Linked DNA regions of Homo sapiens. The protein of the gene in region 3 binds, or shares a complex with, the protein of the main gene of each other region. Each region holds a gene or a part of one and is shown on either strand. Other genes may lie near its edges.

Region 1 (8,073 bases), on a different chromosome or scaffold from region 3:
AATTAAATATATTTATCCACAGCTCTCTTGAGGCAATGCTTTTTAAAAAGATAAACCATGAGACTATTACACCAATGCTTTAAAACTGACCTTCAAACACACAACAGCATACAAGGGAAAAGTGCCTGAAACTGATTTTATAACAGGTCTTTTCAGAACTCTCTCTCATATATAATGTTAGAAAAAAAAAGATCCTGTCTCCTCAGCAAACCCCTTTCAGAGCTTAATCAAGACAACTAATATGTGCCCCAGCTTCTAGCATAACTAAAATGAAGAAGGTAATTCAGGGCTTCCTGGACTCCAAACAGCAAGAGAAAGTTTTAATATAACCAAGCCTAAAGCAAAAAACTCCAATCCTAATGTATGCATTTCAAATGACATGAAGAAAAAAAATCCTACCAATGAGTGTACTTCTGCTTCCATAGCTACATAATGAACCTAACATCTCTTGCCTGTGACTAGTAATTTAGCCAATTCTGACTGAAATTAAACCCATTCTGATGCATATTACAGGAAATAGCCAGACCCCATCATATTCTGGCAACATTAATAATGCAGCTCAGAAATAGCAGTCAGGGCTAAACAGGCTACACTATGTTTCTGATATCACAAGGAGAGTTCAAAAGAATTTCCAACATATGTAATCTCTGACACAAACCAGAGTTGTAATAAAGGCTGTGTATGAATACAGAGAGAAGAGCCCAGGGGCCAGGACAGAAAAAATATATTATAGGTGGGGAAGCAAGACATAGCTTGGATAGGGTAGTGTGAATTGGAGGGTGAGAGGAAAAAAGAAGCTAGAGATAAGATGATACCTGGTGCATAGAGAAGAAGGAAACTAGGATAGACTGCATGCTAGCCTACCCACAGTTCTCACTCCCTTCAATCTTCCTTTTGTTATGAGCAGGTGACCAGTTATATCTATGTCCCATGCAGGCCTTTACCACCATGGAAATGAGAATCAGGCACAACCATGAACAACACTGAGCCCTGAATGCTCATGTTAATGGAGCAATAAGTTATCTATTTCAAAAATCCCACTTTGTAAGATCCTTCAACTCCTTAATTTATATTTCATCAACTCTGTGAAATTCTACCTTTTCACAAAGAATATTCTATGGGAAGTTTATAGATGTACAACAACAACAAAAAAGTCGGAATATTCTGGAGATAGGGTTATGGCTGTACAACAACGTCAATGTACTTAATGCCACCTAACTGTACACTTAAAAATAAAGTGATAAATGTTGTGTTATGTATACTTTACCATAATAAAACAAAAAGTGATTAATTCATCCATCCCCACCCAGGGACCAAGAAAAGAAGTCACAAAAGCTGCCAGCATGCATCCTTTTTCCTTATGACCAGGCGGATAGGCAGGCTTAGGTAACACAGGCAACATGCCACTGGAAGCACTTGGCTCCCACTTTTTTTTTTTTTTAGTGTGTTATGTTCCCTCTGATGGTGAGAATTATTAAATTTACTACTTATCCTGCTATCACAGGACTTAATGCCTTAGTCCTTCACCTTCCATTCTCTTTCTCCAAGATTTTCTCCTATGCCCTATCTAGAAACCTGGTTCACAAAACTTCCTCAGTTCTAACAGTTTCAGTTGTCATTCTAATTACCCTAAATATGCCTATTTTCCCAAGGTAGACTCCTATCTCCCCTTTCTCCCACCCCAAATTACGAGCTTTCTCACTACACCCATGTTCCTTTAGATAACAAATTATTACTTTTCCTCTTGAATTAACTTCTCTATTCACAAGCCAAGCCCAGGCATTTTAGTAAGATCTTACCTGTTCATCTTGTCCCATATGTTGTTCCACTCAAATTTATCCTTTACAAAACCATTTTCCTAGAACAACACTTTTTATCTTGACATTTCCTTAAGGCCAATTAATGAGGAGCATTATGATCATAGCAGCAACAACAACAAAGTAGCAGCAGGTGCTAACAGTTGAGGGCTTTCATGGGTCAGGTACCGTATTTAGCTTTACACACATTACTATTTTATTTAACTCTCAAATCCATGATGCATGTAATTATTATACTATACTTACTTTACAGGCAACAAAACAAAGCCTATATTACAGGAATTATTAGTCCAGGGTCTATTTACCTAAAATGTCCTTTAGGAAGGCACGAACCTCTCAAATGGCAATGCATGGTTGTGTGAATGTGCATCTGTGCATTTTTCTGGGGAAAGGGTTCACAGCTTTTATCGGTATATCAAAAAATACATGTCCCAGGCCTGGTGCCGTGGCTCACGCCTATAATCTCTGCACTTTGGGAGCCTGAGACAGGTGGATCGCCTGAGGTCAGGAGTTCGAGACCAGCCTGGCCAACATGGTGAAACCCCGTCTCTACTAAAAATACAAAAAAATTAGCCAGGCACGGTGGCGGGCGCCTGTAATCCCAGCTACTCAGGAGGCTGTGGCAGGAGAATCGCTTGAACTCGGGAGGAGGAGGCTGCAGTGAGCCGAGATCGCGCCCTGCATTCCAGCCTGGGCGACAGAGTGAGACTCCGTCTCAAAAACAAAAACAAACAAACAAGACCCAAATATGATTTTTTAACTGCTACTACAATGGTTAAACATTCTCTATTAAATCAAAGTAAAATTCTTGAGTCTGATGTTAACTGTCCTCCACCTACTAGAGCGCCCCCCATCTCCATCTACTAATATAGCCTTTCGTTTGAAGCCATGCTCTGCACCAACTCACCCTCATACTGTCCCGACCTGGAATACATCCCCAATTCCAAAGCCCATCCATGCTTCCAAAGGCTTAACTCTGGACCCATCATGAAGCCTTCCTTGTCTACTCCAGTCCCCACTGATATCATATGGCCTCCAAGCGCGCGCGCGCGCGCGCACACACACACACACACACACACACACACACACGGACGCACACATTCCCAAAGGCAGTCCCCTTCAGCCCTCTTCTCACACATTCGTGCTCCTACATACACACTGTGACGTGCATCTGCCTCACACACCCTGACACTCCACATTCACAGAGACACACACGCACTGTCACACTCACTAAACACCTGGTCACAGCCTGACAGTCATACCCAAGTTCCCCGCAACAGCTCTATCTATGCCCAGTACCTCAAATACAACTTTGGACACACAGGCATAGTATCTTTCTCTCTAATACACACACACAAGCCCACTGGCCCCCAAATACTGCCCAAGGTCCCACCAACCATCTATCCCACACTGTCAGCCCTGTGTTCCACAGACGCTCAAACCCACCGCCGCTCCAACCCACCGCCGCTCCCTCTCACGCCCCGCCTCACCCGATGCTGGTACAGACAGACGTTCCCGAAGCCGCCGGTGCCCAGCCGCTCCCGCATCTCCCAGGGCCCGCCCGCGCCCGGCCGCAGCCCCGGGGGCCGCTCCATGGGGCGGGAGGGCAAGCGGCCTCAGGTTCCACAGTTGTTCCAAGGCCGGTTCCGGGCCGCCGATGCTCGCGCGTCTTTGTTCTCGCGAGAATGAATGCGTCACTTCCGGTAACCGCTGCGAGAAGGCCCTTCCCTAAGTTCTCCCAGGGCGCTGCCAGAGCCCTGCCGGCTAAGGGATGGGGAAACAAACAGGTACTCGGTCCGCTCTTTAAGTCCCCTACGTATTTTCCGGGAGGGCTGAACGGAACCACAATGTTTTTCTAGTCTTGGAAAACATAAGATCTCTCCAAACCCCACATTCCCGTCAAATCCACTTTTCAAAGCAGCCCAGTCTCTCCTGTATTTTTTTCTTTTTAATTAAGATGGGGTCTCGCTCCGTTGCCCAGGCTGGAGTGCAATGGCACGATCACGGCTCACTGCAGCCTCGACCTCCCGGAATTAAGCGATCTTCTCACCTCCCGAGTAGCTGGGATTGCAGGCGCGCACCACCTCGCTTGGCTAATTTTTTATTTTTTGTAGAGACATGGTCTTGCTACGTTGCCCAGGCTGGTCCCGAACTCCTGGTCTCAAGTAGTCCTCCCACCTTGGCATCCCAGAGTGCTGGGATTATAGACATGAGCCACCGCGTCCAGCAATTAGTCTTTTCTAAACTTCATATTGTCTCTACTCCTATCTACACTTCACCTTTCTTCAGATCCCTGCCATCTATCCTCCAACTCCACCACCAGCTGATCCGGCACGCTAAAGACCACCAATGATTTAAAGGCTGCGAAATCGTTAAAATACTACGCTAGCAGGCCCACTAATGAATTAGCCTTCTTGTTCACTGACTTCCCAATACACCTGCTCCAGGATATCCCCTGTCATCCCAAATGACTCAAGAATGTGACGCTATTCCGGAGTGAAGAGTGTTTCTCGGGATTTCGCGAGCTTTTTTCCTAGATGCCTCACAGAGCTTGCTGTCCGGCAGTCCAGTTATGGGTTTGCCAGCACAGTAGTTCATTGTGAGAAGTGTTTCTAATGGGTGCTACAGGGCTGCAGAGGCAAGCTTTGGGAATGCTGTTGGTGCAGCAAGTGCTTCCGGGTGGCGGATTGCCATAGCATAGGGGAAACAACTCCTGGTCTTCCATTTAAGAGGGTCATACCTTCACTGTACCTGGGGGATCTCAATACTCCAAGTAAAGGAATCAGCATGGAATCAAATTATTGATAAATGTGATGCTGCAACCAGAATGTTGAGCACTGCATGATACAGACGAAGTCGATGTTGTAGGTCATTAGTAACATGTGGTATGGGAGGTTCTGGTTTCTGTAAGTGCATGGTTTCCATGGACTTGGAGATGATGATGCCTCTGAGGACATGTCATTTAGAGCTGGGCAGACCGCACAGAGAATTGTGGTACAGATTGTTGTAACAGTATGAAGCCCTCTCATTTGCTGTATGTACAGCATGGCCAGTGCTAATGTGCTCAATTTCCGTAGGTGGGGCTGTAATCTCGTAATTCCCAGTCAAAAGAGGTAGGAAGGGATGCTGAGGACCCAGGGATACTGATGATTGGGCTGACCCAGAAGTGGCCATCTTTGTGGAAACCAGGTTGGTTCCCTTGGTTAACTTTTTAAATGCCCCCATTCCCAGGGCCATGAGTAATTTGAGTTGTTTTTTGTTGTTGTTGTTGTTATTGTTTGAGATGGAGTTTCACTCTTGTCACCCAGGCTGGAGTGCAATGGTGTGATCTCAGCTCACTGCAACCTCCACCTCCAGGGTTCAAGCAATTCTACTGCCTCAGCCTCCCGAGTAGCTGGCATTACAGGCGCATGCAACCACGCCCAGCTAATTTTTTGCATTTTTAGTAGAGACGGGGTTTCACCGTGTTGGCTAGGCTGGTCTCAAACTCCTGATCTCAGGTCATCTGCCTGCCTCAGCCTCCCAAAGTGCTGCAATCACAGGCATGAGCCACCTGGCCTGTTTTTTAAAAAGCCTAAGCCTGTTGACCCCAGGCTCCACAATCTTCAATTTTCCGAGTCTCAGTTTTTTTTTCATGAGTAAAATAGAGGTAATACCTACCTCACAGAGATTTTGTGAAGATTAAATGAAACAGTGTCTGGACCATAAGTGCCCAATATAAAGGTAAAAATATTTTTCTTTTTGCGCCTAATATGTAGCATTCTCTTTGCTCCTTCTCTATGTAAATGTTAGATCACTATTTTCAAGCACTCCTTAAATACTGATATTTCTCAGGTAATCATCTTCAGCTCAGGACTGTATTTACCCTATCTTAATTTCACCTATGGCCTATACCCTGATGATCCCCAAAGCCCTGTAACCAACCCAGGTACTGATGAGTTTAGAACTGCCCAGCAGCACAACAGACACATATTAGATATATCAAGCACCTAAAACAATATCCAAAGGAGAATTATCTTTTTTTTCTTAAATCTGTCCCTTCTATTCCCCATTAAACTGTAATCTCTGGGACAACAGGGACCATATTGGGACATGACTATGGTCCTGGAGCTTAGAAAAATGCCTGGCACATAGGAGTTAAATATCCGAAGGACTAAATGGGCTCTTATCTATGAATAAGATGAATGCTTAAGAGAAAAATAGCAAAAGCCTTGGATCCCTTTTCCACTTTGGGTTGTTCAGGGAGAAACTGCCCTGTGTGATTTTGGAGTAACAGCTGGGCCTAAAGCTCTAGCCCCTGCTATTACACATACTACTTCATTTCAACGGTCACAGGCAACATGAACACAAGACACTTCTCAACCATGGAAAAACATCTGGATTTCATTTGGTAGTTTAAAGGTTTTTGAAAATGTTGATATACACAAGCTGTACTTGGAGCTGGATAACAGACATAGGAGCTGGATGACAGACATACTTTTATTCTTTTATTTTTGAGATGGAGTTTCACTGTCACCCAGGCTGGAGTGCAATGGAGCGATCTTGGCTCACTGCAACCTCCACCTCCCAGGCTCAAGCAATTCTCCTGCCTCAGCCTCCTGAGTAGCTGGGATTACAAGTGCCTGGCACCACGCCCAGCTAATTTTTGTAGCTTTAGTAAAGACGGGGTTTCACCATGTTGGCCAGGCTGGTCTCAAACTCCTCACCTCAGGTGATCCACCTGCCTCGGCTTCCCAAAGTACTGGGATTACAGGCGTGAGCCACTGCGCCCGGCCTTAACATAGGATTTTCATCCTAGAATGACTTTTCCCCAAAAAGATTCAATCTTAGGCCTCTTGCTGTAGGCAAGTTCCATGGGACTGCACAAAAGAGGCAGGGAAACAGTCCCCATGGGAGATTGTAGTTTCTTTAAAAATAGGCTTCTAGGCCAGGAATGGTGTCTCATGCTTGTAATCCCAGCAGGTTAAGAAGCCAAGGCAGAGGATCCCTTGAGCCTAGGCATTACAGACCAGCCTGGGCAACACAGGGAGACCCTCCTGTCTCTATAAAAAATCAAAAAAGTTTGCCAGGCATGGTAGCATGCGCCTGTGGTCCCAGCTACTCATGAGGCTGAGGTGGGAGGAACTCTAGAGCCCAGGAGGTTGAGGCTACAGTGAGCCACAGTTATGCCACTGCAATCCTGCTTGGGTGACAGAGCGAGACTTTGTCTCAAAAAAAATTCTTTTAATTAAAAAAAAAAAAAAGCTTTACTACTTCCTGTGGAGTTCATAAAAAGTTCTTCCCTTTGTTTTAGTCATCCAGAGTAAAGTCATAGGGCTCAAAGTCTTTCCGGAAGCGGCGAGCCAGGGTCTCCTCGTCTTCCTTGCTGATCTGACACTGCCTCCAGTCAGACTTATCAGGAACATTAAGGATGGCTTCACTGGCCAGGACCTCCCTGCAGAAATAGCACAAAGAAGTCAAAATGGAAACTATCAGCCTGAGCTCTCCTCAACATCACCCAAAGGAGGTATGCAAATTTCTCTGACTTTGCTCTCCTGCCCTGAGTGCCATCTCTGCCATACTATTGATCAAAATCATACCCGTTTTAAATGACCAGCTCAGGTACTATATATTTCCTGATCCTTCAAACCCCACTTGCTTCTCCCTCTCTTAAAAAACTTGGAACTATATTATTGGTACTTAGAGAAGCAACACCACATAGAAAAAGGGCAGGCCCTGGTGTGAGAAAGATCAGAGACTGGATCCCATTTCCAGCTTTGCCACTTGCTATCTATGATCTAGACAGATGATTTCATCTCTGAGTCTTGATTTCCTCACCTATGAAATGCAAATAAGAACACCCACCATACAGGGTTTTTGTGAGGTACAGAGATAACACAGTCAAAGTGCCATATTAGCTGTGATTACAACCTGCCTTAAACTGTAGTTTTGTCACCTCAACTAGACATGAGTTTGCAGAGTCAGGAGCCTAGTCATACCCACTCTGATTTAAAATTCCTCTGCCTCTCCTTCTAGGGGACTCAGGCCCACGTAACAGCAGCACAAGCCCAATGTCAACAAAACAACTATCTTGGCTCTTAGGACTAAAGAATAACTACATACAGACACACTCACACACAAGCTGCCTTCTAATCGCCATTGCTTTATATTTTTATTTTTACTTATTTTGATATATTAGAAATAATTCTATTACACATTTATATGGTTCATTTTCCACTTTGAAGTTACAGTAAATAGAAGAGTTAGAAACAAATCA
Region 2 (7,514 bases), on a different chromosome or scaffold from region 3:
CCGACAGAGGGGCACGGATCCCACGTATGGGCCCAATGGCTGCTTCAAGGCCCTGGATGACATCTTAAACTTAAAGGTGAGTGTGGAGCCAAGTTAGCCCTGAGGCAAAAGCTGGGGTCCCCAGTGGAACATGCAGTTCTTAGGACAGAGCAGGGGATGGGGCCAGCTGACCTAGTGAGGAAATTTAGGCTCCTGCATCAGTCTTTCTGCATAAGTAAAGAAAGGACAGTTGTGCTAATTGACATTGGCTATGAGGTCATAGCCACAGACAGGATTATGAAAGATGCAAATATGCGAAACATGGCACATGACCTCCCTCCCTCAAGCTAGGCCCTTGCTTTGTGTGGTTGGGAAATGTTGGGAGTAGCAGAGAGAGGACCTAGGCAAATAGATGGGCATTTCCTTGAAGAAATCGGTTTTCCAGTAACATCTGGGTTGTGTTGCAGCTGGTTCATATCTTGAACATGGTCACGGGCACCATCCACACCTACCCTGTGACAGAGGATGAGAGTCTGCAGAGCTTGAAGGCCAGAATCCAACAGGACACGGGCATCCCAGAGGAGGACCAGGAGCTGCTGCAGGAAGCGGGCCTGGCGTTGATCCCCGATAAGCCTGCCACTCAGTGTATTTCAGACGGCAAGGTGAGCCCTGGCTTCGTACACACCATCCTGTTTACCTTGGCTGTGCCTCCTGGGAAACTCAACACACTTTCAGATTTCAATTCTGCTTTGTCATGTAGTCTGTTAATCACACAGTGCGGATACCTGGCTGGTTTTTAAGTTGGAGTATGGTGTCCTCTGTGTGGCCTGATAGGAAACACAAATCTCCTTGCTGGACTTGTTACTTCCAAACCCTCCAAGACCGGTCTCTTGCCTTTATTGCAAAAAATGATGCTATAACACTCGAATCTCTCAAGTTGCCTGCTTGGCCCTCTTCCAAGTGTACTAAAAAAAAAAAAAAAAAGGATGCTGCACTTTCTTGAGTCAACTGAAAGTATTTATGATGGCCTCTGTGTACAGAACTGGGTTAGGCACCTGTGTTAACTATAGCTGTGTAAGACATGACCTCTGCTCAAAAAGACCTTCTCAGCTGACTTGTGGAGCTAAAGTTATCATATGAGAAATAATCATTGCATAGGGAAGTATATAGTGAATTTCTGAACTTCCCAGGGAAGACAGAGAGTAAAATAGAATGTAATACGTTTGTAAATAAAGAGTGTGTTCAGACAGTAAGTGTGGCTGGAAACGTTAAACACTTCATGGATGCTTCCTACTTGCTGGCTGAAGATGATGCTCTTGCTGAACAGTGGGGAAAGCTGTGGAACTTCTTCATTATCAGTTAGAAAAGAGAGGGTTGGATCCACAAGATTCATTTTGTCCTTGTCCCTTTGCAGTTAAATGAGGGCCACACATTGGACATGGATCTTGTTTTTCTCTTTGACAACAGTAAAATCACCTATGAGACTCAGATCTCCCCACGGCCCCAACCTGAAAGTGTCAGCTGTATCCGTAAGAATTTGTTATGTTTTGTTTTTCTAAATAATCCGTTATAATATGTGGGACAAGGCAGGGAAGGGAGACTGGACTAAGGAAGGGGGAGCCACGTAAAGGAAATTAATATCGCCAGTCCTCAGGGCAGCCTTCCTTATTTAGGACATGCAAGGAGTAGCCAGGCAAGAGAGAGTACAGGAAACCATTAGTTAATTTCAACCTCCTAGGACGGGCGTGGTGGCTCACACCTGTAATCCCAGCACTTTGGGAGGCTGAGGCAGGAGGATCACTTGAGCCCAGGAGTTCAAGACCAGCCTGGGTAATATAGTAAGCTCGCAAGTCTACTAAAAATTTAGAAATTAGCCAGATGTGGTGGTGCATGCCTGTAGTCCAGCTATTCAGGAGGCTGAGGCAGAAGGATCACTTGAGCCTGAGAGTTCAAGGCTGCAGTGAGTCATGATCACCCCCACTGCATGCCAGCCTGGGTGACAAGAGCGAGACCTTGTCTCAAAAAAAAAAAAAAAATTCTGTTGAAAATATATGGCCCTATATACATATGTGTCCAATGGTTCGTAAAGTGTTCCTTCAAATCAACAGCTACTTATTGACCACTGGTACATGCTGTTGGTACAAATACATGTATGTGACAGTAACCAGGCATAACACCCTCCAAAGTTACATGATCCTATAGTAGGTACAAAACGTGAAAGTGCCAGTAGTGTCGAAGGCAGGATATGGTTAATTGTAGGAGAGTTATTGTGGTTATTCTTTGACAATTGCTTGTGTCTCTGTCTCCAGTTCAAGAGCCCAAGAGGAATCTCGCCTTCTTCCAGCTGAGGAAGGTGTGGGGCCAGGTCTGGCACAGCATCCAGACCCTGAAGGAAGATTGCAACCGGCTGCAGCAGGGACAGCGAGCCGCCATGTAGCGTGCCAGGCTTTTTTTTTAAACTTAATTTATTTAAAATTCCTTGGTGGCTTTGGCCACAGGGAGGTGGTTGAGGCAGGGACCCAGAAGCAACCGTTATGAGCAACAAAAGGAAGACACTGGTTTGGATGGACGGGAAGCGGTTGGGTGGGCTGGACTGACGGAGGCCCCTTTAGACCTGGCGAGGTGAGTGTGGTTGGCACAGGGTGAGGAGTGTGGAACTGAAGCTGGGCTGGCCAAGCTGTGGCTGGTTTGGGAACCCAGAGGAGCTCACTACCATGTGGATTAGCAAAACTCCCCTGACCGTGCTGCTGGGGACTTACGGACTCTTTCCTCATTGTGACTCGTTTGCCAACATTATTGGCCTTTTGTGTCTTCCTTTGCCTGATGTCAAGTTTAGTGCAGAACCTCAGGCATTGCTGAGGGCTAGGAAATTGTCCTTGGGTTATAAGTGGCTGCTATAATAATAGTGATGATGATAATAATTATAGCAGGGACCTCCCTTGACATTTGAGGGGGTTTTGTTATTGTACAGGAAATGGAATTTGGATCCCAGAGATGCTCCAAGACTGTTCCTTGTGGTCCCTGCAGGATGAATCTCCTCCGAAACAACAGCTGCCTCTCCAAAATGAAGAATTCCATGGCTTCCATGTCTCAGCAGCTCAAGGCCAAGTTGGATTTCTTCAAAACCAGCATCCAGATTGACCTGGAGAAGTACAGCGAGCAAACCGAGTTTGGGATCAGTGAGTGTGCACTTTGCAATGAGTTTAAAGACACCATTTTTTTTTCTTTTTCTCTTTCTAAGGTTTCTTTTGTCCTATTATAATTGAGTTGCTTATTTCTGTTTCAGTTTTGTGGTGTTTTTATTTTGTTTTGTTTTGTTTTTCCTTCTCAATTTTTTTTCAGCATCAGATAAACTGCTGCTGGCCTGGAGGGAAATGGAGCAGGCTGTGGAGCTCTGTGGGCGGGTAGGAGACTCATTTTGGGTTTCGGAACTTACCAAGGGGGTGAGATTTTGTGCTCCCACTTTTCACTTTCTCATCAAACACTGGGTCGATCTCTGTCAAAAATCAGGTGTTCCTCACCATGCTTTGAGCTTAACTGGACCAGCTGAAAAGAGGCCAAGAGAGTAGCCAGTGAAGGGAGCCCCTCTGTGGCCAGATGCAAGAGCTGCATGAATGGACAGAGATGGTCCAGGTTTAAATAAGAAGCAAGGGTTAGGTTCCCTTGGGGAAAAGCCAAGACCATTTCCTGTTAGGAAGGGCATTGGATGGATGATCAACACTCCCTCTTGTCGAAGGTTTTTGACTAATTTTGTTGGGATGCTAAATCCATAGGAAATAAAAGGTCTAGGCAGAAAGTCTCAGGGCAGCGTAAATCAGATGTCACCAAAAAAAGTTAATTATGAAGGCAAAGGAAATACATGTGACTTAATGAACCTCACACAAACTGAAGGTTGAAGTCAGGCTCCGGGGCTTTTTCCTGGACTTATCCTCTGTTTTCCCCTGTGTACTTGGGCAAGGATCTTCACCTGTGTCTTAGTATCGATTTTTATGAATCAGTACTGATGGAGTATATGTGTGTTTAATGGTGAATATTAACCATAGAAGGGCTGAGTGCTCCTCCCCATCTTGGGACTCATAATCTGTGAAATAAAACAGTCTGGGCCTCCCTGCCCGGGTAGCATCAGGATAGACAGATGAAGAGAAGAGAAAGTAATGTGTCTTGGGCATCTTCTGTATGCCAGGCACCATGCCAGAGGCTTTAAGTACTTCATCTTACTTGACTCCTCAGATGGCCCTGTTAGAAGCCTATTTTATGCAAAAGGAAACTGTAGCTGGGGGTAAGTAACTTGCCAAGGGGTCACACAGCTAGAAAGCGGTGGACCCTAGATGCAGGCGCAGCCATTCAGACCCCACAGTCCACATTCCTTTGAGCCAGTCCATTGAGGGTCCTCAGGGAATGTGGCGGGTCCCCTGGTCTCGCTCCCCCGCAGATCTTGCATCTCAGCATGCGCCTACCACATCAGTTGACATTAGCACAGCTTTTCCATTAGGAGAACGAAGTGAAACTCCTGGTAGAACGGATGATGGCTCTGCAGACCGACATTGTGGACTTACAGAGGAGCCCCATGGGCCGGAAGCAGGGGGGAACGCTGGACGACCTGTGAGTACTGGCTGGGGGGCCCCTCTGTGCCCAGCACACACAGACAGCCCTGGAGCTTCGGTGTGTGTGTCAAGGGCACCCTCAGTGGCTGTGCGGGACCATTCTCTAGAGCATGCTTCCCTGTGGGGTCACTTCCAGCAAATCATCACTGAGCTTCAGTTTCCAAATCTGTTCAGTGACAAGAAAAACAGTCTTAAGTCACGAAGTTGTAAGGATGAATTCAGATAATGCATTTGAGACGCAGGCCATAATCTGTAAAGGCTGTAAAATGCAAGCAGCCTCTACCCCTGTAGCAGACTCCCCTGATTTGTTCCACCCACCCTGACTCAGGCATAGCTCAGAGCAGAAAGTAAAACAGAGAAGGAAGAACCTGATGAGGCTTAGGAGTTTGGACCTGGAAACTATTCGTTTGAGTCTTTGTCAGGTATTTGGCATTGGCTCCATGAGGGGCGGAGGGGTCTAGGCAGATCACTCCTACCTGAAGGAGATCACATGTGCTCCTGGCGTACAGATGGAGGGAACCAGGCAGGCCGCTTGAGGGCTGTGTCACCGTGAGCTCAGCAGTGTTCCCTGATTCTCTCACTAGGATTCTTAGGACAGGAGCTCCAAATGTCAGAACTTTGATTCTGTATTTTCTCTAATTAACCCTTTATTCTCCTCTAGTTCTTTTATTTGTATTTGTATTATTTTTTTAAGAGACAGGGTCTTGCCCTGTTGCCAATGCTGGAGTGCAGTGGCACAATCATAGCTCACTGCAGCCTCGACCTCCCAGGCTTATGCAGTCCTCCCATCTCAGCCTCCCAAGTAACCGGGACTACAGGCGCATGCCACCATGCTCAGCTAATTTAAAAAAAAAATGTTTTTGGCTGGGCACAGTGGATCACATCTGTAATCCCAGCACCTTGGGATGCCAAGGCAAGAAGATTGCTTGTGAGCCCAGAAGTTCGAGACCAGCCTGGGCAACATGGTGAAACTCTACCTCTACCAAAAAAATGTAAAAATTAGCCATATTTGACCTCAAGTCTAGACAGAACTTCTTTGTATATTTTAGAGAGGAGCAAGCAAGGGAGCTGTACAGGAGACTAAGGGAAAAACCTCGAGGTAAGTGGGGTTCTGTGTCTGCCTTGGGCTTCTCCTTATCTCATTTATGGGGCATCACTACTCTCTGCTGGCTTCCTTGAGGAACTATGCTACCCTCCCTCTCTCCAGACCAGCGAACTGAGGGTGACAGTCAGGAAATGGTACGGCTGCTGCTTCAGGCAATTCAGAGCTTCGAGAAGAAAGTGCGAGTGATCTATACGCAGCTCAGGTATGAGCCCCGACCTTCCTGCTCTGGAGGAAGGACTGGGAGATGCAGGTATGAGGTCACCTTCCTCCCTCCTCTCTGATTCGCTGGACCTCATGAAGAGAGTTTCTGCAGCTGCTGACTGGATGCACAGCTGCCACAGGTTCTGCTTTCTCCAGCCCAAATGCCATTAGTTTGCCATGTTTATTCTTTGCAGTAAAACTGTGGTTTGCAAGCAGAAGGCGCTGGAACTGTTGCCCAAGGTGGAAGAGGTGGTGAGCTTAATGAATGAGGATGAGAAGACTGTTGTCCGGCTGCAGGAGAAGCGGCAGAAGGAGCTCTGGAATCTCCTGAAGATTGCTTGTGTGAGTGAGTGCTGTGGTCCCGGGCCCTTGGCCTAGCAGCCTCCTGTGCCTTTCCACCTCTGTGCACTGCCGCCATCCCACACGGGACACCACAGAGCCACCAGCAGCCCACTCAGCTGCTGCTCGGGCTTCACGTCGCTGTTCTTTGACTTGGTGTAAGCGGGGAGGTCAGAGGAAGGGCCTGTGCTAATTGTTTTCATTCATCTGTGTATTACTTTCGTGTGGCTACTGTAAAGATTAGCACAAACTGAGGGGCTAAAACAACAGAAATTTGGGCTAGGCATGGTGACTCATGCCTGTAACGCCAGCAATTTGGGGAGGCTGAGGTGGGAGGATTGCTTGAGCCCAGGAGTTCAAGACTGCAGTGAGCTGTGATCATGCCACTGCACTCCAACCTGGGCAGCAGAGCTGTCTCTACTAAAAACAAAAACAAACGTGTTATCTGAGCTCTAGAGCCCAGGAGTTGAAAGTCCCGTGTCAGCAGGGCTGAGCTCCCTCTGAGGGCTCTTGGGGAGGGACTGTCCTTGCTTCTTCCAGCTCCTGGTGGTTCCAGGCGTTCTTTGGTGTGTGACTCCAGTCTCTGTCTCTGTCTTCATGGGACCCCTGTGTCCCTTATCTGGGTGACTCTTACAAGAACACTTGTCATTGGATTTGAGTCCCACCCAAGTAGTCCAGGGTGATGTCATCTCAGGTTCTCTAAAGACGCTTTCTCCAAGTACGGTCACACTCACAGGCTCCAGGAGTTGGGATGTGGGCATATCCTTCTTAGGGCCACCAATTCAGCCCACCGTCATGCACGGCAGTGCAACTTGGTTGACCATCGTCTGCGTCTGCACTGCCCTCAGTGCAGTAAGCCACGCTTTCTGTGCACACCGTCTTAACGTAGCTGTGAGTCCATGGGATGCCACATGGTGGGGAAATGGGAAACAAAACAGCCAAGAACTGAGACGGGCAGGCCTGGCCGTGTTGTGGGAGCCAGAGCTGTTGGGACTGCAAGCCCCATTGTGAAAGGCTGCAGAGAAGGTGACATGGATGAAAGAGTGATTTAGGTGTCAGTTTCCCTTAAGAGCAAAGGGAAGGAGAGAGGGAGATGGTTGCTCATGGTGGAAGCAGGAGATGGTGCATTAGGAGATTCTCATTGTCAAAGGCAGAGGGGACAATCCACACACAGTGCAGAGAACAGAGGGGCTGGGGTCGCATGCCAGAGCACTGAGCATGCCTTGGGAGCGTGATTGACACATCCTCCTGTAAGAAGAGAGGAACGGGAGAAAACAGGATGACGA
Region 3 (7,514 bases):
AGAGAGCTGAGCTCCGTTCCCGCCCCAGCAGAGGCGGCCTGGCCTTGCGAAGGGAGAAGGAGGGAGTCGGGAGGGGGCGAGTGCAGGCTCAGGTGAAAGATGACGGGGCAGCCAGCGTCCTTGCCGCGAGGCCAGCCGTGTGTGGGAGCTGCCGGTGCTTACCAAGGTTGGGATGCTTCCGTCCCGTGGAGACTGGGAGACTGGGCCCCGCGCCTCCTGAGGTTTCCGTTTCCAAGGAGTGGCTGCGGGGCCCTCGGGAAAGCCCCTGGGTTGTGGGTGCTACACAGATGTCTCAAAGGGACAGGGTAAGCCCTTTGTAGTAAATGCTGTCAGAAAGGGAGGTCAGGTGTTGGCCGGAACAGACAGTACATGCTCTGGGCAGCCCTGAGCGTTTCCAGACGGGAACTCACTCAAAAGGGGGCTGGGGCGTCCCAGGGGCGCGGCCTTAGGCTCCCAGAGGCCCCGCGAGGTGGTGGCCGGGTGTCTTCGGGCAGGGGTTTGAGTGCAGTGTGCCTGCCGAGAGGTTCTGCAGTTCCCAGTGTTTAACAAAATTCAGTGTCCACTCTTGATCTGCACAAACTCTCCCATCCTGGCGGCCCCGGGTGTGGACTGGGGCCTGTGTTTACTTTGCCCTATTCGTGTCTGGCCTCCTTTTGTCCCAAGTCTCAGAGAGACGGAGAGAGATCCCCTGCTGGGGCTGTAGCTGCAAGGCCACCGGGTTCAGCCCTCGAGGCCTGCTTGCCGGGGCAGTGACTAAGCCGTTGACAACCTCAAGGCAGCTTTGTGCTCCTTCGTCTCTTTGGGGATCTCTTTTTGCCCCATCTGTGTGTCACCCTGTGGCAGAGGGTTAAGGTGGGCAGCTGGGGAGGGTTGGGTGGCCCTTGGGCTCATGAGGCCCTAGGGCACCCAGGTTTGGGGGTGCCGAGGGCAGGAAAAAAGGCCTCATGGCGCGCAGGCCTCAGCCGCTTGCGGGTTGCCCCGGGCTTGCGGATGGCAGGAGTGGGCCGCTGGGGAGAAAGCAGTGCTGACAGGAAGTGGCTTTTTATCCTGCAGCAGATGGCTGAGGACAAGGCCTCTGTGAAAGCCCAGGTGACGTCCTTGCTCGGGGAGCTGCAGGAGAGCCAGAGTCGCTTGGAGGCTGCCACTAAGGAATGCCAGGCTCTGGAGGGTCGGTGAGTCGGGGGAGCCGGCTCCGGAGACCCCTTCCAGGGTTTCCAAAAGCAATGAGGTGGGTTTAGGGGCCTCCAGGGTGCTCCTTGATGAGGATAGACCGGGGCAGGCTGCGTAAAGACGTCGGGGCAGACGTCGGGAGAGGTCTGGGCCAGGCATCCGGGACCTGGGTCCCAGCCGGCTCTCCGCACTCTGTGACCCTTTGATGGAGTTTGGATTATTTCCTTAGGAGGCATTCTGGGGGCCCCGAGCCCACACCCACAGTGTCTAGTTCTCTGGAAGGACTTCTGGGACCGGCGCACAGTCGCCCTCGTGGCTGAGGTTGATGACAGGGAAAAAGGCACAGGGCAGGAGCCGCCAGGGCAGGAGCCGTGGGGGGAGTTGGAGAAGCCCTGTCCCAGCCTCCCGCTGCCCTGCGAGCGGCACAGTGAGAAGCGCCTCCCACACGGGCCGTGTTCCTGCCCAGGGATGCCCGCTAGAGACTCAGCGCCCTGGGTGTTTACTGGGGGCAGGTCCTGTCAGCGCCCTCTGCCAGGCAGGTACCTAAATCCCCGACTCCCAGCAGCAGAGCGGGTGCTCACGTCAACCACGTTCTTCCTACAAATGGCCTAGGTGCAGGGACCGACCTGACCACTAGAGAAAGTGTCACTGTGGCAAGGGAACTTCACCAGCCAAGGGCCAACCTTGCCAGCCGGTGGCCTCAGGCCTGCTGGTTACTCTCTTTTGCAAAGGGGTCTTGGTTCTTGTGAGTGGGACCATTGGGTCAAAGGGCAGGGAGGTTTCTGTGGTTCTCATTCGGTCCTGCTTCTGCCCTCCAGACAGATGGATCAGCTGCCAGGGGGGCCCCAGCCATCCCAGCACAGTAGGCGGTCAAGGTGCACTTGGGGCAGCCAGCAGGGCAGAGGGGAGGGGAGCTTGACCCAGGCTCTGATGGGCAGAGGGAACCCGTGCAGGGTGTGGGGGCAGTATGCAGGCAGGCGCGGAGGGGAGAGCCAAGCAGCCAGGCCTGCCAGGCAGAGTTGGGGTGACTGGAGAAGGGCCGTGTCTGCCTGTGGCCAGAGGCCACCCAGGACCTGGACAGATGCACCCACCATTGTCCCTGCAGTGAGGCTGTGGAAGGGCTTGGTGTGGTGGGATGAGGCCAGACCCTGGAAACTGGAGGTTAAGGGAGCTGTAGGGGGGCAGGTGTGGGAACTGAGCATCCGAGCAGGTCGTCTGGGACTCCAGCAGAGCTCTGGGCAGCAGCAGGGATGGGGCCGAGGCCCGGTCTGCATTGAGCTCAGTGCTTGCACGCCCAGGTGGGCAGTCTCTCATTTTTGGAACAGCAGTCTCTCCTGACCCCCTCCACTGAGACTGCTTTTGCTGGGGCCCCCAGCAGTCCCCCAGTGGAACTCCACGGGCAGTTCCGAGGGCTCCTCTCACCTGGCCCCAGCACTGCGGGATGCAGGCGACCCCATCCTTTTCTCGGACCACCCCCTTCCCCTGGCTTCCAGGTCTCCTTGCCATCTGTACTTGGTCACCTGCTGGGCCCCTGCATTGAAGCAAACACGTCTTAAGCAAAGCTCCTCACCTGCTGCTCCCACCTGGCCCCCTGCAGTTGTCCTCGTGTCTGTTGACGGTGCCTCCACCCTGCCGCCTGGCATCAGCTCGCAGTCACAGGGTGTTCAGAGCCGACCCCCACCCCCCGCCCACGCCCTGCGCATAGCCCCTGCCGTCCCCCCGTTCGTCCTCCCTGAGTCTGCTCTTTCCCCGTGCCAGGGCCCGGGCGGCCAGCGAGCAGGCGCGGCAGCTGGAGAGTGAGCGCGAGGCGCTGCAGCAGCAGCACAGCGTGCAGGTGGACCAGCTGCGCATGCAGGGCCAGAGCGTGGAGGCCGCGCTCCGCATGGAGCGCCAGGCCGCCTCGGAGGAGAAGTGAGTCAGCGGGGGCGGGGCCGCACCGCAGGGTCTGTGGTTCTACACTTGATCTTAGCCGAAAGGCTGAGAAGTGTCGGGTCCATGGTTCTTTCTGCCTTCTGAGGACTCCTTCAGATTCTGCCTGTGGCTGTGGGCCCATTCTGTCCCTTAGCCTTGCTAACGGTAGAGGCGACCATGATGACACCCGGTTTGTCTTTGATACAGTCATGCCATCTGCTCTCCAGACCACGTTTCACTGCGTGTCCACACGTGGCCTTTTTTGTAGTTTTTTTTTCCTAGCCACTAGGTCATCAGGGGACTTGTCCTTTAAAACCCCTTCTAGGCCAGGTGCTGTGGCTCACGCCTGTAATCCCAACACTTTGGGAGGCCAAAGTGGGTAGATGGCTTAAGCCCGGGAGTTCCAAGACCAGCCTGGGCAACAGAAAGACAACAAAAATACCCCCAAACCCCCCCGTCTACCAGCATCCAATCTGGGACCTCAGGTTCCTGTCCTTGGCGTGCCTTTTCAGTCTCCTTTAATCTAGAACAGTTCCCCTGCCTTTCTGAGCTGTTTGTGAAGTTCACAGTTTTGAACAGTGCAGGGTAGTTCCATTGTATTATTACTATTATTTTCAAGACAGGGTCTTGCTCTACCGTCCAGGCTGGAGTGCAGTGGCATAATCTCGGCTTACTGTACCTTCCGCCTCTTGGTCTCAAGCGATCCTCCCAGGTAGCTGGGACTATAGGCGCAGGCCAGCACACCTGGCTAATTTTTGCATTTTTGGTAGAGGTGGCGTTTTCCTATGTTGCCCGGGCTGGTCTTGAACTCCTGAGCTCAAGCGATCCTCCTGCCTTGGCTTCTCAAAGTGTTGGGATTATGGGCGTGAGCCACCGCGTCTGGCCGCGATTTTATTATAAACATTAAAAATACTAGCTTTTAGGAAAACGATATTAACTGCCTGGTGACCAGCCCACCAAAGCCTGCTTTAGAGTTGACGGCCTCAGGAGTCCTCACACAGCCTTGGAAGACCCCATTCCAGGCCTGTGATGCGAGGGAGGGAAGGAAGGGGGTAGAGTTGGAAGCAGGCAGCACCGTGGCTGGACTGGCATGAGGTGGTTTCTCCAGCAAAAGCTCCCTTTCCTCAGGAGGAAGCTGGCCCAGTTGCAGGTGGCCTATCACCAGCTCTTCCAAGAATACGACAACCACATCAAGAGCAGCGTGGTGGGCAGTGAGCGGAAGCGAGTGAGTGCGACCACTGGGGCTCTAGGGCTGGCCTTGCCTCTTCCTCTCCCCGTGGCCCTGAACCTTGAGAATGGGTAGACCTGCCTTAGACTTGCCTTAGACCTGTGTCAGGCTGCAGCTGCGACAGCTCAGGGAAGCTGTGGGGAGATGGCAACCCCAGGATGTTGCTCTCAGGAGTGTCAGCAGGCCATCTTAATGGGGGGCTGGGCCAGAGCCTTGGGGTGCTCCCTCTGTGGGGCTGGGGACGTCTTGTCTCCATGGACATTCCCTCTTGCCAGCCATCGCCATCTGGCACCTGGCTCAGCTTCCCCCAAGCCAAGGTAAGCCCGACAGCATTTCCACCCCAGTGTTGGCTGGGAGCCTTTTCCTAGTTTGTCCTCATCAGACCTAAGCTGGGGTGCAGTTTGCTAGTGATCACATTTTAGCAGGACACCGTCAATCGTAAGTGTACCCAGAGGAGATTTATAAGGACAAAGCCTGAAGCCAGGTCACATGGGGAAGAGTTAGCTACAAAACTGGCCACTTAATCTCTGGAGGGGGGCGTTGGTGGGGTGTGTCTGTGTGTGTCTCAGGGGGCTGGAGATGCCTGCGTGGGAGGAGTGCACCTCTGACCAGGTGGCAGAGTGGAAGGACTGAGGGCTCTCAGCTGAGCTGTGCACATGGCGGGCACAGGACCGGCTGGCTGTGAGTGGGTGTGGCCTGTGGCCTGTGAAGGGTGGGAGGAGGGCTGTGGAGCTGGGGATTCTGGGAAGGGAATGTCGGCCCAGCTGGGAGGTTGTACCAGATGACCTCAGCGGCCTCTTCAGTCCTGAAAAAAACCTCAGCATCTCCTCTGTCGTTTTGGGCCGTGACAGGACGCAGCCATCTCCCTGTGCACGCTGAGATCCTGCAATGGGCCCTCAAATCAGGGGCTGGCATCACCCAGCCTGGTCAGCCAGGGCCACTCTTTCATCCTTCTCAGTTCTTCTCAGCCAGCCTCGCCCTGGGCTGACGAGGCTCCGTCAGCTCCCCTTGCCCGTCCTTAGGGAATGCAGCTGGAAGATCTCAAACAGCAGCTCCAGCAGGCCGAGGAGGCCCTGGTGGCCAAACAGGAGGTGATCGATAAGCTGAAGGAGGAGGCCGAGCAGCACAAGATTGTGATGGAGACCGTTCCGGTGCTGAAGGCCCAGGTGAGGGCCCTCCTCTCTGACCCACCCTGGCACTGGGACCTGGAGAGTCTCTTTGGCGTCTTTTTTTTTTTTTTTGCTTTTGCTTTTTGAGATTGAGTTTTGCTCTTGTTGCCCAGGCTGGAGTGCCACTAGTGGCACGATCTTGGCTCACTGCAACCTCTGCCTCCCGGGTTCAAACAATTCTCTTGCCTCAGCCTCCTGAGTAGCTGGGATTACAGGCGCCTGCCGCCATGCCCGTCTAATTTTTGTATTTTTAGTAGAGACAGGGTTTCACCATGTTGGCCCAGCTGGTCTCGAACTTCTGGCCTCAGGTGATCTGCCCACCGCAGTCTCTCAAAGTTCTGGGATTACAGGCGTGAGCCACCGCACCCGGCCTCTTTGGCATCATTTTGTAGTGGCCTTTCGTAAGCTTCTGAGCCACTTGTGCTGCTCCTTAGACCTCTCGGTGAGCTTGGCATTACTCGCCGACGTATCTGTTTCCTCTGCGCCGCTGGGGGCTCTGGGAGGACAGCAGTGGGTTCTGCTTTGTTCCTGTGGTGCCTGGCGCAGTGCCTGGTGGGTGGCTGGCTTGTGGCGGGCACATCCCTTTCTGTTGGATTTGCCAGGCGGATATCTACAAGGCGGACTTCCAGGCTGAGAGGCAGGCCCGGGAGAAGCTGGCCGAGAAGAAGGAGCTCCTGCAGGAGCAGCTGGAGCAGCTGCAGAGGGAGTACAGCAAACTGAAGGCCAGCTGTCAGGAGTCGGCCAGGTGGGCCTCTGAGAGCGTGCCCGTGTGAGCAGTGGGTGCGACACTGGGGGGTCGCCAGTGGTGACCCCGCAGTGGGTGCGACACTGGGGGGTTGCCAGTGGTGACCACAGGAGACGGATGGCTCCTGGTGTTCTGGGTTAGGGCTCACTGTGGTCCCTCTCCTCTCACCTGAGCTTCCAAGAGCTGCTTTGACACTAGTCCAGCCAAGGAGCTTTACAGAAATGCGTGGCTTGACTGGACGGTTTCTGTTTCCAAAGGATCGAGGACATGAGGAAGCGGCATGTCGAGGTCTCCCAGGCCCCCTTGCCCCCCGCCCCTGGTGAGTGAGCGAGAACTGGGCCTGCGGGAGGAGGTGGGTGGGGAGGGCAGGTGCTGCGCCGCGGGAGGTCACAGTTCGACCTTCCTGTTGCTCTCTGGAGACTTGACGGCGGGAGCTCGTGTAGGCCACCCCATCGGTAGCCCACCCCCTTCCCCGAGGCTAAGGGAGGCATGCCGTGGTAGCGGCGGCTCCTGGTCTTACATGAGTGGCCTGTGAGACCAGGCCTGCCATTGACAGTCCTGCCAAGTCTCCGTCCCCCTCCATCCTCCCCTTCCCTCTGACTCTTCTCTTTTCCCAGCCTACCTCTCCTCTCCCCTGGCCCTGCCCAGCCAGAGGAGGAGCCCCCCCGAGGAGCCACCTGACTTCTGCTGTCCCAAGTGCCAGTATCAGGCCCCTGATATGGACACCCTGCAGATACATGTCATGGAGTGCATTGAGTAGGGCCGGCCAGTGCAAGGCCACTGCCTGCCGAGGACGTGCCCGGGACCGTGCAGTCTGCGCTTTCCTCTCCCGCCTGCCTAGCCCAGGATGAAGGGCTGGGTGGCCACAACTGGGATGCCACCTGGAGCCCCACCCAGGAGCTGGCCGCGGCACCTTACGCTTCAGCTGTTGATCCGCTGGTCCCCTCTTTTGGGGTAGATGCGGCCCCGATCAGGCCTGACTCGCTGCTCTTTTTGTTCCCTTCTGTCTGCTCGAACCACTTGCCTCGGGCTAATCCCTCCCTCTTCCTCCACCCGGCACTGGGGAAGTCAAGAATGGGGCCTGGGGCTCTCAGGGAGAACTGCTTCCCCTGGCAGAGCTGGGTGGCCGCTCTTCCTCCCACCGGACACCGACCCGCCCGCCGCTGTGCCCTGGGAGTGCTGCCCTCTTACCATGCACACGGGTGCTCTCCTTTTGGGCTGCATGCTATTCCATTTTGCAGCCAGACCGATGTGTATTTAACCAGTCACTATTGATGGACATTTGGGTTGT

Evidence for each region. The genes of interacting proteins can lie anywhere in the genome.
Region 1: IKBKG (region 3) and CHUK share a complex: the UniProt entries of both Homo sapiens proteins name them as parts of the I-kappa-B-kinase (IKK) core complex.
Region 2: the proteins of IKBKG (region 3) and IKBKB are in contact, whole or in part, in a crystal structure (PDB 3BRV), measured with the Homo sapiens proteins. Residues at the interface, in NP_001093327.1 of Homo sapiens: Arg62, Ile65, Arg66, Asn69, Leu72, Arg73, Arg75, Cys76, Leu79, Phe82, Gln83, Gln86, Lys90, Leu93, Met94, Phe97, Ala100, Arg101, Val104; in NP_001547.1 of Homo sapiens: Ser705, Leu708, Glu711, Ala712, Leu715, Cys716, Leu718, Leu719, Ala722, Ile723, Asp725, Thr726, Glu729, Gln730, Gln732, Phe734, Leu737, Asp738, Trp739, Trp741.

The regions. Positions count from the first base shown.
Region 1 is NC_000010.11:100,226,121-100,234,193, forward strand, and holds the start of CHUK (inhibitor of nuclear factor kappa-B kinase subunit alpha), read right to left. Parts: upstream 3,477-8,073; 5' UTR 3,413-3,476; coding exon 3,308-3,412; intron 1-3,307. Other genes in the region: CWF19L1 (CWF19-like protein 1), read right to left, coding at 7,107-7,251.
Region 2 is NC_000008.11:42,316,264-42,323,777, forward strand, and holds part of IKBKB (inhibitor of nuclear factor kappa-B kinase subunit beta), read left to right. Parts: coding exon 1-76; intron 77-446; coding exon 447-641; intron 642-1,393; coding exon 1,394-1,508; intron 1,509-2,288; coding exon 2,289-2,412; intron 2,413-3,006; coding exon 3,007-3,158; intron 3,159-3,321; coding exon 3,322-3,383; intron 3,384-4,471; coding exon 4,472-4,581; intron 4,582-5,632; coding exon 5,633-5,682; intron 5,683-5,790; coding exon 5,791-5,890; intron 5,891-6,083; coding exon 6,084-6,231; intron 6,232-7,514.
Region 3 is NC_000023.11:154,557,479-154,564,992, forward strand, and holds part of IKBKG (NF-kappa-B essential modulator), read left to right. Parts: intron 1-1,053; coding exon 1,054-1,172; intron 1,173-2,928; coding exon 2,929-3,081; intron 3,082-4,209; coding exon 4,210-4,306; intron 4,307-5,331; coding exon 5,332-5,475; intron 5,476-6,080; coding exon 6,081-6,223; intron 6,224-6,480; coding exon 6,481-6,542; intron 6,543-6,840; coding exon 6,841-6,983; 3' UTR 6,984-7,514. UniProt on the Homo sapiens protein: Regulatory subunit of the IKK core complex which phosphorylates inhibitors of NF-kappa-B thus leading to the dissociation of the inhibitor/NF-kappa-B complex and ultimately the degradation of the inhibitor.